2 linked regions of the Homo sapiens genome follow. The protein of the gene in region 1 interacts with the protein of each later gene in a pairwise test. Each region holds a gene or a part of one and is shown in the gene's direction. Other genes may lie near its edges.

The links. Proteins that work in one complex are often made in the same cells at the same time.
Region 2: the proteins of ARL1 (region 1) and GCC2 interact in a two-hybrid assay, tested with the Homo sapiens proteins (one study listed by BioGRID).

Annotation. Positions count from the first base shown.
Region 1 is NC_000012.12:101,404,665-101,412,440, reverse strand, and holds the start of ARL1 (ADP-ribosylation factor-like protein 1), read left to right. Parts: upstream 1-4,668; 5' UTR 4,669-4,795; coding exon 4,796-4,799; intron 4,800-6,459; coding exon 6,460-6,597; intron 6,598-7,776. UniProt on the Homo sapiens protein: GTP-binding protein that recruits several effectors, such as golgins, arfaptins and Arf-GEFs to the trans-Golgi network, and modulates their functions at the Golgi complex.
Region 2 is NC_000002.12:108,480,206-108,487,205, forward strand, and holds part of GCC2 (GRIP and coiled-coil domain-containing protein 2), read left to right. Parts: intron 1-1,491; coding exon 1,492-1,611; intron 1,612-2,081; coding exon 2,082-2,246; intron 2,247-2,856; coding exon 2,857-2,961; intron 2,962-3,943; coding exon 3,944-4,106; intron 4,107-5,430; coding exon 5,431-5,531; intron 5,532-5,625; coding exon 5,626-5,703; intron 5,704-6,305; coding exon 6,306-6,443; intron 6,444-7,000. UniProt on the Homo sapiens protein: Golgin which probably tethers transport vesicles to the trans-Golgi network (TGN) and regulates vesicular transport between the endosomes and the Golgi.

The DNA of each region.
Region 1 (7,776 bases):
CCCATCGTCTCAGCCCAAAAATCTCCTTAAGCTGATACTTCAGCAAAGTCTCAGGATACAAAATCAATGTGCAAAAATCACAAGCATTCTTATACACCAATAACAGACAAACAGAGAGCCAATTCATGGTTGCAATTTTTAAATAGGATGACATTTGAGGTGAGATCAATTCTACATGGTTGTCTAAAGAAAAAAATTCTAAAGACTTTAAAGAAAAAAATTCCAAAGACTTACAATCTAAACATTTAGTTTTGACCAGGTGCAGTGGCTCATACCTGTAATCCTAACACTTTGGGAGGCTGAGGCAGGAGGATCACTTGAGTCTAAGAAGTCAAGCTCAGCCTGGGCAACAGAATGGGACCCCATTTCTATGAACAAATTAAAAATTTTTAAATTTGCTTTTCACGCCTGTAGTCCCAGTTACTTGTGAGGCTGAGCTGGGAGAATCGCTTGAGCCCTGGAGGTCTAGGCTGACATGAGCCATGATGACACTACTGTACTCCAGCCTAGGTGACAAAGTGAGACCCTGTCTCAAATAAATAAATACATAAATAAATGAAAACCAAACATTTAGTTTTAATTCTAGCATGATGCTATAATTCTACTTCCTCAAAGACTTCATTTTAATAAGTAGGAAACTATAATACTAGGTCAATATTAATAGGAATGACTACATTTTGAAAAGCAACATTGCCCTAAAGATATGTATCTTTCCTACAGAGTAATGGCTGTCATTAGTTAGAATCATAAAATATACAGGAAATGGCAGTTTTGTTATTTTATTTTTCAACACCTTATCATGACCTTTATGCATTTGCGTTCCTATAAAAGTAGGAACCTTGCTGTGGTCATAAACTGAGAGAAGCAGTGGTGGAGGTGGGATGTAATCACCAATAAAGATTAGCTAAGTTTCTCTTGGCTATTTATGACTTTGTTAATTATAAATTTGTCTCAACACTTTTATTCTTTTTTAAAATTTTTTAAAATATGGAACACTTCAATTTGCATGTCATTGTTGTGCAGAGGCCATGCTAATCTTCCTTGTATTCTTCAATTTTAGTGTATGTGCTGCTGAAACAAGCTCTCAATACTTTTTTAAAAAACCTTGAGTATTATGTGTTGATAACTATTCTATTTCATGTGCGTTGGCTCATTAAATCTCTTTATTCAATGTCTCAACACTTTATTTATCCATTTATTAGCAAAAAGGTCTTGCTCTGTTGCCCTAGCTAGATCGTAGTGGCTTGATCATAGCTCACAGCAGCCTCAAACTTCTGGGCTCAAGCAATCCTTCTGCCTCAGCCTCCGAAGTAGCCGGGACCACAGGTGTGTGTCACCAGGCCTGGCTAATTACAAAAATAATTTTCTTTTTTAGATACGGGGTCTCATTATATTGCCCAGCTGGTCTTGAACTGCTGACCTCAATCTATCCTTCCGCCTCAATCCAAAGTGCTAGGATTACAGGCATGAGCCATTGCTCTGGCCTTTGTTTTGTTTTCAATGCCTGTAGGGAATTAGGTCAGTTCTTTACTAACAAAGCAAAGCATTATATGATCAAATTTTGAAAAATGAGAATTTTTGATCAAAATGCCTAATGGGTCTTTTTTAGTCTTTATTACACTGTTATTTCCACAGTGACTTGTAACTAGGTGCTTAATATAGATTCTGAAAGGCTGTCAATACATTTAAATTTGTATATAGTATTTCAGTTTACAAAGCATCGCGATATATATCTCATTTATCTGGTTCAGAATATGTAGTTTGAATACACAATTATATTACAGCACATTTTTCCTTTCAGTTCTATTTTATTTATTTTTTTGAGATGGAGTCTTGCTCTGTCGCCCAGGCTGGAGTGCAGTGGTGCGATCTCAGCTCACTGCAACCTTCGCCTCCCGGGTTCAAGAGATTCTCCTGCCTCAGCCTCCCGAGCAGCTGGCATTACAGGCACCTGCCACCACACCCGGCTAATTTTTGCATTTTTAGTAGAGACAGGGTTTCACCATGTTGGCCGAGCTGGTCTTGAACTCCTGACCTCAGGTGATCCACCCACCTCGGCCTCCCAGAGGGCTGGGATTACAGGCATGAGTCACCGTGCCCCGCCTCAGTTCTCTTTTAAAGGGAATCTGTATTTTCAAGAATTACACACATCATACTCAAATATAAATCTGACATTGACCTAAGTTTGAAGTAGTAATGGCCAAGATCTTTCAAGCAGCAGCAAACTAATCTTGTTTAAGAGGAGGTATTATAGAATCATAAGCACAGAGGTCCAATAATTAGACCACACAGTGCTTACAAAGGATAGCCTTAGAAAGGTTCAGGTGTTTAGGTAGAGCCCTTCTCCCCTTCTCAAACCATTAACAAAAATAAAAATAAACAAAACAAAACTTTTCCTTGCAGGAAAATTTCCGTGAACCTGTGGTTTTGGGGGCAAGGATGAGAGCAAGAGGCAAAAACTAGTTCAGAACCTAGACAACTAGTGGAGTCTGCAAACAAATCAAAACCAAGATAGGCATGGTTGGTGAGCATGTAAATTGGTATAGCCACTATGGAAGGCAGTATGGAGGCTCCTCAAAAAATTAAAAATAGAACTACAGTATAAACCATATAGTATATACCATATATATCATATATGCATATGTACCATATATACAATATATACGTATATACCATATATTCTGGGTATATATCCAAAGAAAATGAAATCAGTATGTCAAAGAGATATCTGCATCACCATGCTCATTGCAGCATTATTCATAATAGCCAAAGTATGGAATCACCTAAGAGTGAACTGATGGATAAAGAAAACGTGAAATGTAAAAATGTGGTATATGTATGTATATTTATATATATAATGAATACTATGCAGCCTTTAAAAAGAAGAAAATCCTGTCATTTGTGACAACATGGGTGAATTTATGCTAAGGGAAATAAGCTAGGCACAGAAACACAAATACTTCATGATCCCACTTATATGTAGAGTCAAAAAAAGTGGAACTCATAGAATGAGAGCAGAATAATGGCGGGATCTTGGCTCACTGCAACCTCTGCCTCCCAGGCTCAAGTGATCCTCCCATCTCAGCCTCTCAAGTAGCTGGGACTACAAGTGCCACTGTGCCTGGCTAATTTTTTTATTTTTTTGTAGAGATGGGGTCTCACTATGTTGCCTAGGCTGGACTCCAACTCCTGGGCTCAAGGGATCTGCCCGCCTCGGCCTCCCAAAGAGCTGGGATTACAGGCCTGAGCCACGACACCTGGCCGACCTTAAATATTCTTAGCACAAAATAAACATATACACACAAGCACACACGACTATGTGAGGTGATGGGTATGTTATCATTTCACAACATATACAACTATGAAAACATCACATGGTACACTGTAAATATATACAATTTTTATTTAAAGCTAGAAAAATTCTTTTAAAATAAACTAAAAAGGCAGTCCATAAGCTTCTGTTGAATGGATGAAAATCTCTACCATAAATAAAAACATAATATGCAAAGGTATTAATAAGATTTGGAAGAAAACCTAAGAGAGTATTAACAGTAGTGACTACTGGGGATCACCGAGATACAGGGTATTAGGGATGGAAGGTTTACTTTTCTCTTTTTTTTTTTGAGACGGAGTGTCGCTCTGTCGCCCAGGCTGGAGTGCAGTGGCACGATCTCGACTCACTGCAACTTCTGCCTCCTGAGTTCAAGTGATTCTCCTGCCTCAGCCTCCTGAGTAGCTGGGACTACAGGCGCCCGCCACCACGCCTGGTGAATTTTCTGTATTTTTAGTAGAGACGGGGTTTCACCGTGTTAGCCACGATGGTCTCGATCTCCTGACCTCGTGATCCGCCCGCCTCGGCCTCCCAAAGTGCTGGGATTACAGGCGTGAGCCACCGCGCCCGGCCGGAAGGTTCACTTTTCAATGGATCTTTGGGAAGTTTCAAAACATACATGCTCAACCTTTAAAAATTTCTCTAGGGGAAATCCCTTCTCCACATCCTATAGGTGTGCTTCCTTCTTCCTCTCCACACACTTCACTATCAAAACCTACATTACTTCCAACAGTCGACCCTCGAGGGAATAAGTCCCTGGTCCCCACGATCGGGACCAGCCAGTCCACACTGCCGACCCCTGAAAGGCGGTCTCAGCTGCTCGGTCAGCGAGAAAAAAAGCCGGCGAGGTCCTCGTCCTGCAGGCCACAGCGAAGACAAAAACCTCTGGTTACTGGCCTCAGGTGCAAGGCTGCTCCGCATTGGCAGCGCGGTACCATTCCTATTATTATTACGTAGTCTTGTTTCTTTCTGGGAGAAAGCACCTAGGGAGAGTTGGGCTGGCCCCGCAGGGCGCTCCGGGACACGCGTCCTCTGCAACGCCGCAGCCTGCGCCAGCGTTCGACCGGGACGACTCATCGAGGCCCGACTCGCATTTTCAGTTGTCAGATTCGCCACTTTTTGGTGTCAGAATTTAAAACAAAAATTCCAATTTCTCTATTTCAGAAGCTCTTTCTGTCCAGAAAAACACAAGCAGGAGAGACTTCAGGTTTTTGAATTATTCGTCTCTTCTGGCCTCCACGGTATCTACATCCAGTGAGCGGGGACCGTGAGTCGAAAGCGACGACGCGGATGCTCAGGCCACCGTTCCCGGCGCGCAGTCGCAGCTGACCCTCGCTCCCGCCCCCGCCTGGAGTCCGACGTGGAAGTTGCTGGCTGACTGGGCTTGCGAGGAAACCGCCTCGGAGCTGCAGCCGAAGGCCAAGGAATCACTGAAGATCGGCGAGGGAGGACAGGGGGTTCATCATGGGTGAGGGGTTCGAGAAGGGCACCTGGGCGCGCTCGAGGGAGCCGCGGCCGAGGGCTGGGGTGCAGAGGAGGAGAGGGGCCGGCCAGGATACCCTAGAGTAGCCAGCTCCTCAGGGGGCGGGTCGCGGAGGACTTGACTCACTTTGGATCTTCATCTGTAGGGGTGGATCCGGCCTCTCGCGTTCTCCTCCGTCCTCTCTCGGTTCCCCTTGATTCCTGCGGGGTCCAGGGACCCGGACAGCTTGGGGACGTCCGCAGAGCCTGGGTTCGAGTTCTTTACCCTTATCATGAAGTTTTCCCTCATCCCCAGCTCCACTTGCTGGGCAGAGTTGTTCTTGCGGAGGCTGGCAACGCGTCAGTCGCAGGTTCGCCGAGGTTTCTTGGTGAAAGATGAGCTGCGGCCCCAGAGTGGAAGCTTAATCATTCTCTTTACCAGGGGCGCTGGGACGGCGTCAGTTTGAAAAACCTGAGAGCAGGTGTTGCTTATGTTGTTTTATGGCCAGTTTGGCATTTGTCTGCTAATCTGCTGTAGCGTTTCATGTAATAATACGGGTATTTCTAGTCGGCAAATGAAACTTTATTCTTGGTTCTTGGCCCGCTGATTGAGGGAACTGCATTCTCACAAGCATCAGGTAACACCCTCGCCCCGCTAGAACCCAAGTGAGGGTGCACATTCTTTAACTCGTTTCTCACCCTCCAAATGAAGGTGCAGATTCTTTGGCTTGGTTAAATCCCTCCACAGTTTTCTGGGGAGCATACTTCTTGCTCCCAAGCATCACAGGCGCTGTCCTGTCTTCCATAACCGCCTTCAGTTTTGTTCCGCCTCTCTTCTACCTGTAAATGGTAGAAAGGACTTTGTCAAGTCACACCTATTCTGTTGAACTTTCCCAAGGTTCTCTAGCCCATGGTGTTGTTCATTTTTCAACTCGCAGCTCTTAGTTATGCCATGTCTTTGCCAAATAACAGTGTGGCATCACTTCTGATGTTAACTATTTTTTTTTGTATTAATGTAACTTGTTTTTAATCTTCTCTAATGGCTCTGGATGGGAAAAGGACTGTGCTTTTTATCCTACACAATACTTGGTGTACAGGAAGCTTTCTGGGAATATTTTGTGATGCATTGGATAGAGCTTTATTATTTTTAAAAGTGGGTTTTTTGTCAAAAATAGTTATTGTTTTCAGCTTTTTTCTCAATTTCTTGTACTAGCTATATTGCTTCGTGGAGAACTCTGATTGAAGTTGGTTATAGTGGTACTGCTGCTGTACAGTACTTTTCCTGTGCGAGGATTACATTGTCCCACTATCCTCCTTACTGGCCCCTTGGTTTTTAGGGGTAGTGAGGGGATCATGCTAAAATATTCCTATTCTGCTGATTAGAAAATGAGATTCCCAAAGGCCGCGGCCATATTTCTCTTATTATTTGGTTTATCTTCTGTGCCTGCATGACACAATAGTAACATAACTAAGGACATAGTAACATAACTAATTACTTGTTTGATATTGAATAATATATTTCATTGGGAGGAAAAATATGCACCTACGCATCCAGGAAATTATAATATTTAATTTGGTATTTAGCTCTCAAAGGACAAGGTTAGATGTTTTGTATACCTAGTTCACAAAATGACATTGTGTATGTTTTTTCTTTTATTATTTTTTAGGTGGCTTTTTCTCAAGTATATTTTCCAGTCTGTTTGGAACTCGGGAAATGAGAATTTTAATTTTGGGATTAGATGGAGCAGGAAAAACCACAATTTTGTACAGATTACAAGTGGGAGAAGTTGTTACTACTATACCTAGTAAGTGTTGGTATGATGAGCTAATTGTAGGGACTTTCTGGTCTCCATCCAACATAACTATTTCTTTCTTTCTTTTTTGTTTGTTTTAGTAGAGATCAGGTATCATCACTATGTTGTCCAAGCTGGTCTTAGACTCTTGGCCTCAAGTGATCCTCCTGCCTTGGCCTCCCAAAGTGCTGGGATTACAGGCATGAGCCACTATGCCAGGCCTATTTCTGAATAAATTAATTCATATAATAAAGTATTTGATAAAGTTTGTAAACTGCTAGTATGAACATAACATTGATAACACTTTTTCCATCAACTAAGAGGCAGCTTAGTGTAATTTAAGGACCCTTGTTCTGGTTTACGGCCGGGTTGGGCTGTTTATAGGTTTAAGTTACTAAATCTTACTGAGAGCCAGTATCTTTACTAATAAAATACATAAGATAACAAATACCCACTGGTTTTCAGGGGGAAATAAACAAAGTAGGTAAAAGTACCTTTTAAATCTGTGTAAAGAATTATATAAATGTTAAGTGATGTTACATGTGAAGTGCCTTTTTTTCCTGTATTTGTTACTATTTTAATTAAGATTAGTTTATCTTAGGTAATTATATTGATTACTTTTAAAGATCTGAGTTGCAGAGACTGAGTGTTGAAGTAATTTGGTACCTTAAAAATATCAAGAGAAGGCCGGGCACAGGAGCTCACGCCTGTAATGGCAGCACTTTGGGAGGCCAAGGCGGGTGGATCACCTGAGGTCGGGAGTTGGAGACCAGCCCAACCAACATGGAGAAACCCCATCTCTACTAAAAATACAAAATTAGCCAGGCGTGGTGGTGCATGCCTGTAATCCCAACTACTCGGAAGGCTGAGGCAGGAGAATCGCTTGAACCTGGGAGGCAGAGGTTGTGGCAGGCCAAGATTGCACCATTGCACTCCAGCCTGGGCAACAAGAGCAAAACTAGGTCTCAAAATATATATGTGTATATGTATATATTTATTAAGAGAAGAAATACCTCAATTTTAATCAATTATTACTGTCTTACAAAAATATTCTCCAACAGTCTTACTGACTATATGAGAATACTGTTGTTATTTATACTTTTTTCATTTGTTGCCTTGAATTTACTTAGAGAAGAGTAGTACATTTAAATTAAAGAGTTCATACAGTTTGCTCAAGATTTTTTAAATTAT
Region 2 (7,000 bases), on another chromosome or scaffold:
AGATACCACCTCACATCAGTCAGGATGGCTACTATTAAAAAGTCAAAAAAATAACAGGTGCTGGTAAGGTTGCAGAGAAAAAGGAACACTTACACTTTTGGTGGGAGTGTAAATTAGTTCAGCCATTGTGGAAAACAGATTCCTCAAAGACCTAAAAACAGAAATACCATTTGACCCAGCAATCCCGTTACTGGGTATATACCCAAAGGAATGTGAGTCATTGTGTCATAAAGACACATGTACATGTATGTTCTCTGCAGCACTATTCATGATAGCAAAGACGTGGAATCAACCGAAAGGCCTGTCAGTGGTAGACTGGATAAAGAAAATTGGTATATATACACCATGGAATACTACACAGCCATAAAAAAAATATGAGATTATGTCCTTTGCAGGGACATGTATGAAGCTGGAAGCCACTATCCTTAGCAAATTAATGGAGGAACGGAAAACTAAATACCACATGTTCTCACTTATAAGTGGGAGCTAAATGATGAGAACACATGGACACATACAGAGGAACAACAGACACTGGGGCCTAACAGAAGGTGGAGGGGTAGGAGGAGGGAGAGGATCAGGAAAAATAACTAATGGGTACTAGGCTTAATACTTGGATGGTGAAATAATCTGTACAACAAACCCCTGTGACACAAGTTTGCCTACATAACAAACCTGCACATGTACCCCTGAACTTAAAAGTTAAAAAATTTTTTAAAAACACCATTTTGCTAGTAATTTTGCAGGCACATTTATGGGAAGAATAGAAGTTTTCCAGAAACAAAGGCAAAAACAGGATTTATAAGGAAGGAGAGAGAGAGAAAAACATAAAGAACTACATGCAGTCTCGAAACTGAATCTCATTTACATATTTTGGTGGATAACCTAATTAGCTTGTGTGTGGCAAGAAAGTCTGATCATTCTGTCCTTCAGTAGGCCAACTAGGAATATCAAAGAAAATTCAGTTGTCTTTGGATTCTTCAGGAAATATTGAAAGTGTCACTGCAGAGTGTGAGAGACTAAATCTGTGAATGTCTTCCAGTGTTCTTTCATTAGCACCTTTACTTTATATTAGGTCAGGCCTGGAATATTTCTCTCATTAGAATTCTTCAGGTGGAGTTAGGTATCCAGGTTAAACTTTTTATCCTCTGTCCTTAAATTGTGTTTATTAAACGTTGTATCTATCCTTAAATTGTGTTTACACTTCAGAAGTTCATTTTTGTTAATGAGTAGAATATTTAACCTTGGAGCTATTATATTGTTTATATTTAAAATTTTCTTCTTCTTTCATATATTTCCCCCACTCTCCAATACTAAAAGTTACCCAAAATGTGCTAGTTTTATTACCTAATGCCAGTTAGGTATTCTGTTCAACTTGGGTAAATATTTTAAGCATCCAGAATGGACTCATGAATCTTAAGGTGGCTTGATGATGAAGTCTGACCTGTTGAATGCAAAATTATATACCAAAGTTAAATCCTTCTTTTATTGAAGAATCTTTTATTAGAATATGAAAAGCAGTCAGAGCAACTGGATGTGGAAAAAGAACGTGCTAATAATTTTGAGCATCGTATTGAAGACCTTACAAGACAATTAAGAAATTCGACTTTGCAGGTAATTTTTTAATAAATCCAAAAATGAAAACTATAACAGGTATATTTTAATCTCAATACTTTTTGCATAAAAAATTTAAAAAATATAGTCGGAAACAGAATTTATTCCCCCCCCACTTTACCCTCCTTCCCACTTAGGAGAGAAGAATAAGACAAAACAGCTAGCAACTATCTTGCTTATTATTCTAATCTCAGTTCCCCTAGAGGGTTGTTTGTTTGTTTGGGGGTTTGTTTGTTTTTCGTTTCTGCTCTTTGCTCTGCCAGTGCACCTGGTCTCTTGTAAGGTTTACCATATTAGTATTTCAATGACAGATTTTAAAACTGATTCTTAATATTATCGTTCTGTAGCATGGACTTGGAAATCTTCATTTGTCACACTATGCCAATATTCTCATTAATGTACCTGTTCATTCTTCCTCTGCTGTATATGTTTTTTGCATGTTTATAGTAATGAATCATTTGTCATTTCAGTGTGAAACAATAAATTCTGATAATGAAGATCTCCTGGCTCGTATTGAGACATTACAGTCTAATGCCAAATTATTAGAAGTACAGATTTTAGAAGTCCAGAGAGCCAAAGCAATGGTAGACAAAGAATTAGAAGCTGAAAAACTTCAGAAAGAACAGAAGATAAAGGTAAAAACAATCCTATGAGATTGATTCACATATATATGATGCATTTACCAAAATATTATTTAAATGAAGGGAAGACTTACTAAGAGTAGCATTTATGAATACAGCAGAGTTCATTAATTCCTTAATACCAACCATAAATTTGAGAATCCATGCTGTGATTTGGGGTGTATATATTTTAAACATTGAAATATTACCAAACTTTTTGTATTTTAGCGTGTCAGATTTATTTTATTTTATTTTTTTGAGACGGAGTCTCGCTCTGTTGCCCAGGCTGGAGTGCAGTGGCGCAATCTCAGCTCACTGCAAGCTCCACCTCCTGGGTTCATGCCATTCTCCTGCCTCAGCCTCCCGAGTAGCTGGGATTACAGGCACTCACCACCATGCCCAGCTAATTTTCCGTGTGTATTTTTAGTGGAGACGGGGTTTCACTGTGTTAGCCAGGATGGTCTCAATCTCCTGACCTTGTGATCCACCCGCCTCGGCCTCCCAAAGTGCTGGGATTACAGGTGTGAGACACCACGCCCGGCCGTCAGATTTATTTTAAAGCCCCTTAAAAATACCTTTTTAATATTGGTTGGGTGGTGTGGGTTGTTTTTATTTTTAATTTCAGGAACATGCCACTACTGTAAATGAACTTGAAGAACTTCAGGTACAACTTCAAAAGCAAAAGAAACAGCTTCAGAAAACCATGCAAGAATTAGAGCTGGTTAAAAAGGTAAAATAAAACACTAGGATCAAAATTGATGTAATATTCACATTGTTCTGTTTTGTTGTTCTGTTTGTTCTGTTCTCTCTGCAATCTCACTCTGTGGCCCAGGCTGGAGTGCAGTGGCATGATCTCGGCTCACTGCAACCTCCGCCTCCCGAGTTCAAGCAGTTCTTGTGCCTCAGCCTTCCAAGTAGCCGAGATTCCACGCATGCGTCACCACACCCGGCTAATTTTTTGTATTTTGGGTAGAGATGGAGTTTCACCAATTTGGTTAGGCTCGTCTGGAACTCCTGACCTCAAATGATCCGCCCATCTCAGCCTCCCAAAGTGCTAGGATTACAGGTGTGAGCCACCGCACTCAGCCTGCATTGTTAAACTATTCTATACATGTTGAAAAGGAATATTTTAGAATGTTACTTGTGGTACTAAAATAATGCTTTATAAATTATTTGCTCAAAAAATTGGAAATTTAACTTACTTCTCTAAGTACCAGTCCTTTCAGAAGAATCTAGGCTCCTGAGTTACAAGATTTTGGTTTGACAGTTCATTTTGTATACATGATTGTTGTATGACACATTAAGATTTAATTAATGTCAAAGCTTGAAATTTGTATTATACTTAAAACTTTGGCTGACTTTACTCCTTCAAAGATGAGGCTAAAAAGAAATGTACTATAAGAGCCACTTGACATATTAGTATTTTATAAATAAGAGCTCCGCAAGCTACAGCTGCTAGTTGTAGTTAGTTATAATGAAATAAAATGAAACTAAGAAAGTTGGGTTAAACTATTAGAAAATATTTTGTGAAATTAAAAAGTAGAAAATATCCAACTCCTCATTTCTTTGTTACAGTGTAAACAATTTCAGTATTACAGAAAAGCACCCATTTATTGCTGTGGCATCATTTTAGCAATTTTACAAATGAAAAAAAAAATTTACAAATGAACTGATCTACTATTGTGTAAATCTTTTACTTATAAAATGTGCAGGATGCCCAACAAACCACATTGATGAATATGGAAATAGCTGATTATGAACGTTTGATGAAAGAACTAAATCAAAAGTTAACTAATAAAAACAACAAGATAGAAGATTTGGAGCAAGAAATAAAAATTCAAAAACAGAAACAAGAAACCCTACAAGAAGAAATAAGTGAGTTAAAGAAAATTCACTTTACTTTTTAATTATTTCATCATAACAACTTGATTTGGTGGGGGGCATTACTTGTTTATTTCACCAGTCTTTCACTGTCAGTCAGGTGTTTAACACAGTGATAAATGTTACTGGGGACCCAGAATGGGTGTAAAACTGTTTGCCATTAAGTTGTTTGTAGTCCATGCCTATGTCCTGAATGGTAATGCCTAGGTCTTCTTCTAGGGTTTTTATGGTTTTAGGTCTAACGTTTAAATCTTTAATCCATCTTGAATTGATTTTTGTATAAGGTGTAAGGAAGGGATCCAGTTTCAGCTTTCTACATATGGCTAGCCAGTTTTCCCAGCACCATTTATTAAATAGGGAATCCTTTCCCCATTGCTTGTTTTTCTCAGGTTTGTCAAAGATCAGATAGTTGTAGGTATGCGGCGTTATTTCTGAGGGCTCTGTTCTGTTCCATTGATCTATATCTCTGTTTTGGTACCAGTACCATGCTGTTTTGGTTACTGTAGCCTTGTAGTATAGTTTGAAGTCATGCTGCTATAAAGACACATGCACACGTATGTTTATTGCGGCATTATTCACAATAGCAAAGACTTGGAACCAACCCAAATGTCCAACAATGATAGACTGGATTAAGAAAATGTGGCACATATACACCATGGAATACTATGCAGCCATAAAAAATGATGAGTTCATGTCCTTTGTAGGGACATGGATGAAATTGGAAATCATCATTCTCAGTAAACTATCTCAAGAACAAAAAACCAAACACTGCATATTCTCACTCATAGGTGGGAACTGAACAGTGAGATCACATGGACACAGGAAGGGGAATATCACACTCTGGGGACTGTGGTGGGGTGGGGGGAGTGGGGAGGGATAGCATTGGGAGATATACCTAATGCTAGATGACGAGTTAGTGGGCGCAGCACACCAGCATGGCACATGTATACATATGTAACTAACCTGCACAATGTGCACACGTACCCTAAAACTTAAAGTATAATTAAAAAAAAAAAAGAAAAAAAAAAGATGTTTGTAGTCCACATTTATTCACTTTAACATTTCTTAAGTACCTTGCTGTTTCCTGGTCTGGGTTAACTAAGATTGTCTATGGGTTGTAATTGTTACAGCCGGGAGTTGGGTACAGTAGAGTTTATGGCACTGTTGTTACTACTGTCACATATGTTTGAAGTATTCCATAATAAAAAGCTAAAACAGGCTTAAAGACAAGCCAATACAAAGAAGACATATTTGTGTATTTAAATTCACTGATAAAAATTGTTACATCTTTTTCTGCTGAAATTATTTCTTGTGCTAGCTTCATTACAGTCTTCAGTACAACAATATGAAGAAAAAAACACCAAAATCAAGCAATTGCTTGTGAAAACCAAAAAGGAACTGGCAGATTCAAAGCAAGCAGTATGTTAATTTTTCAGTTTCATATTTAGTACTTATTCATAATTTATTTATGAGTAACATTAAAAAAAATTTAACCAAGATTCTCATTCTATAGGAAACTGATCACTTAATACTTCAAGCATCTTTAAAAGGTGAGCTGGAGGCAAGCCAGCAGCAAGTAGAAGTCTATAAAGTAAGGGTTTTACTTTTTAAGATTAAAAAAATGTTTTTTCATGTAGAAGTGAGGTACCATTTAGAGATTTTATTGATTATCCTATAACGATATCTAGAAAGATTCCTCAACATTTTGAGGAAGTTACAACAATAAATCAAGTCTGGCATATAACTGGAGTATATTATTTGGCTCAAGCTAGATTATTTTCATGTATTTGGAAATTCATAATATACTATAGAATAGTGCAAAATAAAATAAGCCTGCATCTGAACTAAATGCTATTGCAGTTACAAGGAACAGTTTATAAAATGATTTTATATGTTTGCTATATTTGTGTATATTTTTATATATATAATGTCTTGAAGTATTTAAACATTGTATGTTAAATATGTAGTCTGGGATTTTCTTTTTTTTGAATTGATGTTGGTTTAAGAAAAGATAACTTAGAAAATGTTCTACTTGTCTCTGCTTTTTCAATAATAATACATAAAAATATTTCACTACTTAATTATGCCTTATATGTACTTATGTCTCAAACCTAAAGTTTGTATTTTAAGGAAAACCTCTTTAACTAGTGAAGATAGGATTTGCTAAAGCTAAATTTAAAGATTTACCCCCAGATACAGCTGGCTGAAATAACATCAGAGAAGCACAAAATCCACGAGCACCTGAAAACCTCTGCGGAACAGCACCAGCGTACGCTAAGTGCATACCAGCAGAGAGTGACAGCACTACAGGAAGAGTGCCGTGCTGCCAAGGTGCGTTCTTCAGGGCAGCCACAGCAAGCCACTGGGATTTTATTATCAGCTAGTCATTGGTTTACTCCAGGGCTGTGCTCTGCCTTTTTAGTATTTTCCTGTTAAGAGCACTTACTAGATTAAGACCTGTTCAGTTAATCTGGCTTTAACCCCAATCCCATGCCAACCCTAATCGTAAGTTGGATCACTTTTTTTGCCAAAAGGAAAAACATGATGTTTTTTCCATTTCAACCTTGTTTTGCAATTTATGTGTCACTTATTTATAAAACTTTTTTTATTAGAAACGTGTTACAGTTCTTAGGGCTAAATGATTATAAAATAACATTTTAATAGCATGGCTGTGGGGGCCTACTTTCTTGTCATCATCCAAAACAGAGACAGTGCAGTGGTTGTGTTAGATGCAGGTCTTATTTAAGCAATCCTGGCAACACTGTTGTGGGAGTTTACAGATCACTTCAAGAAAGTGGAAGACCTAGAACTTAACACTTAACCACCCTGTTTTGAAAACTGAAGTTCAAATAACTTAATTTCTGAGTTAATTTTTCTCAAATTTATAA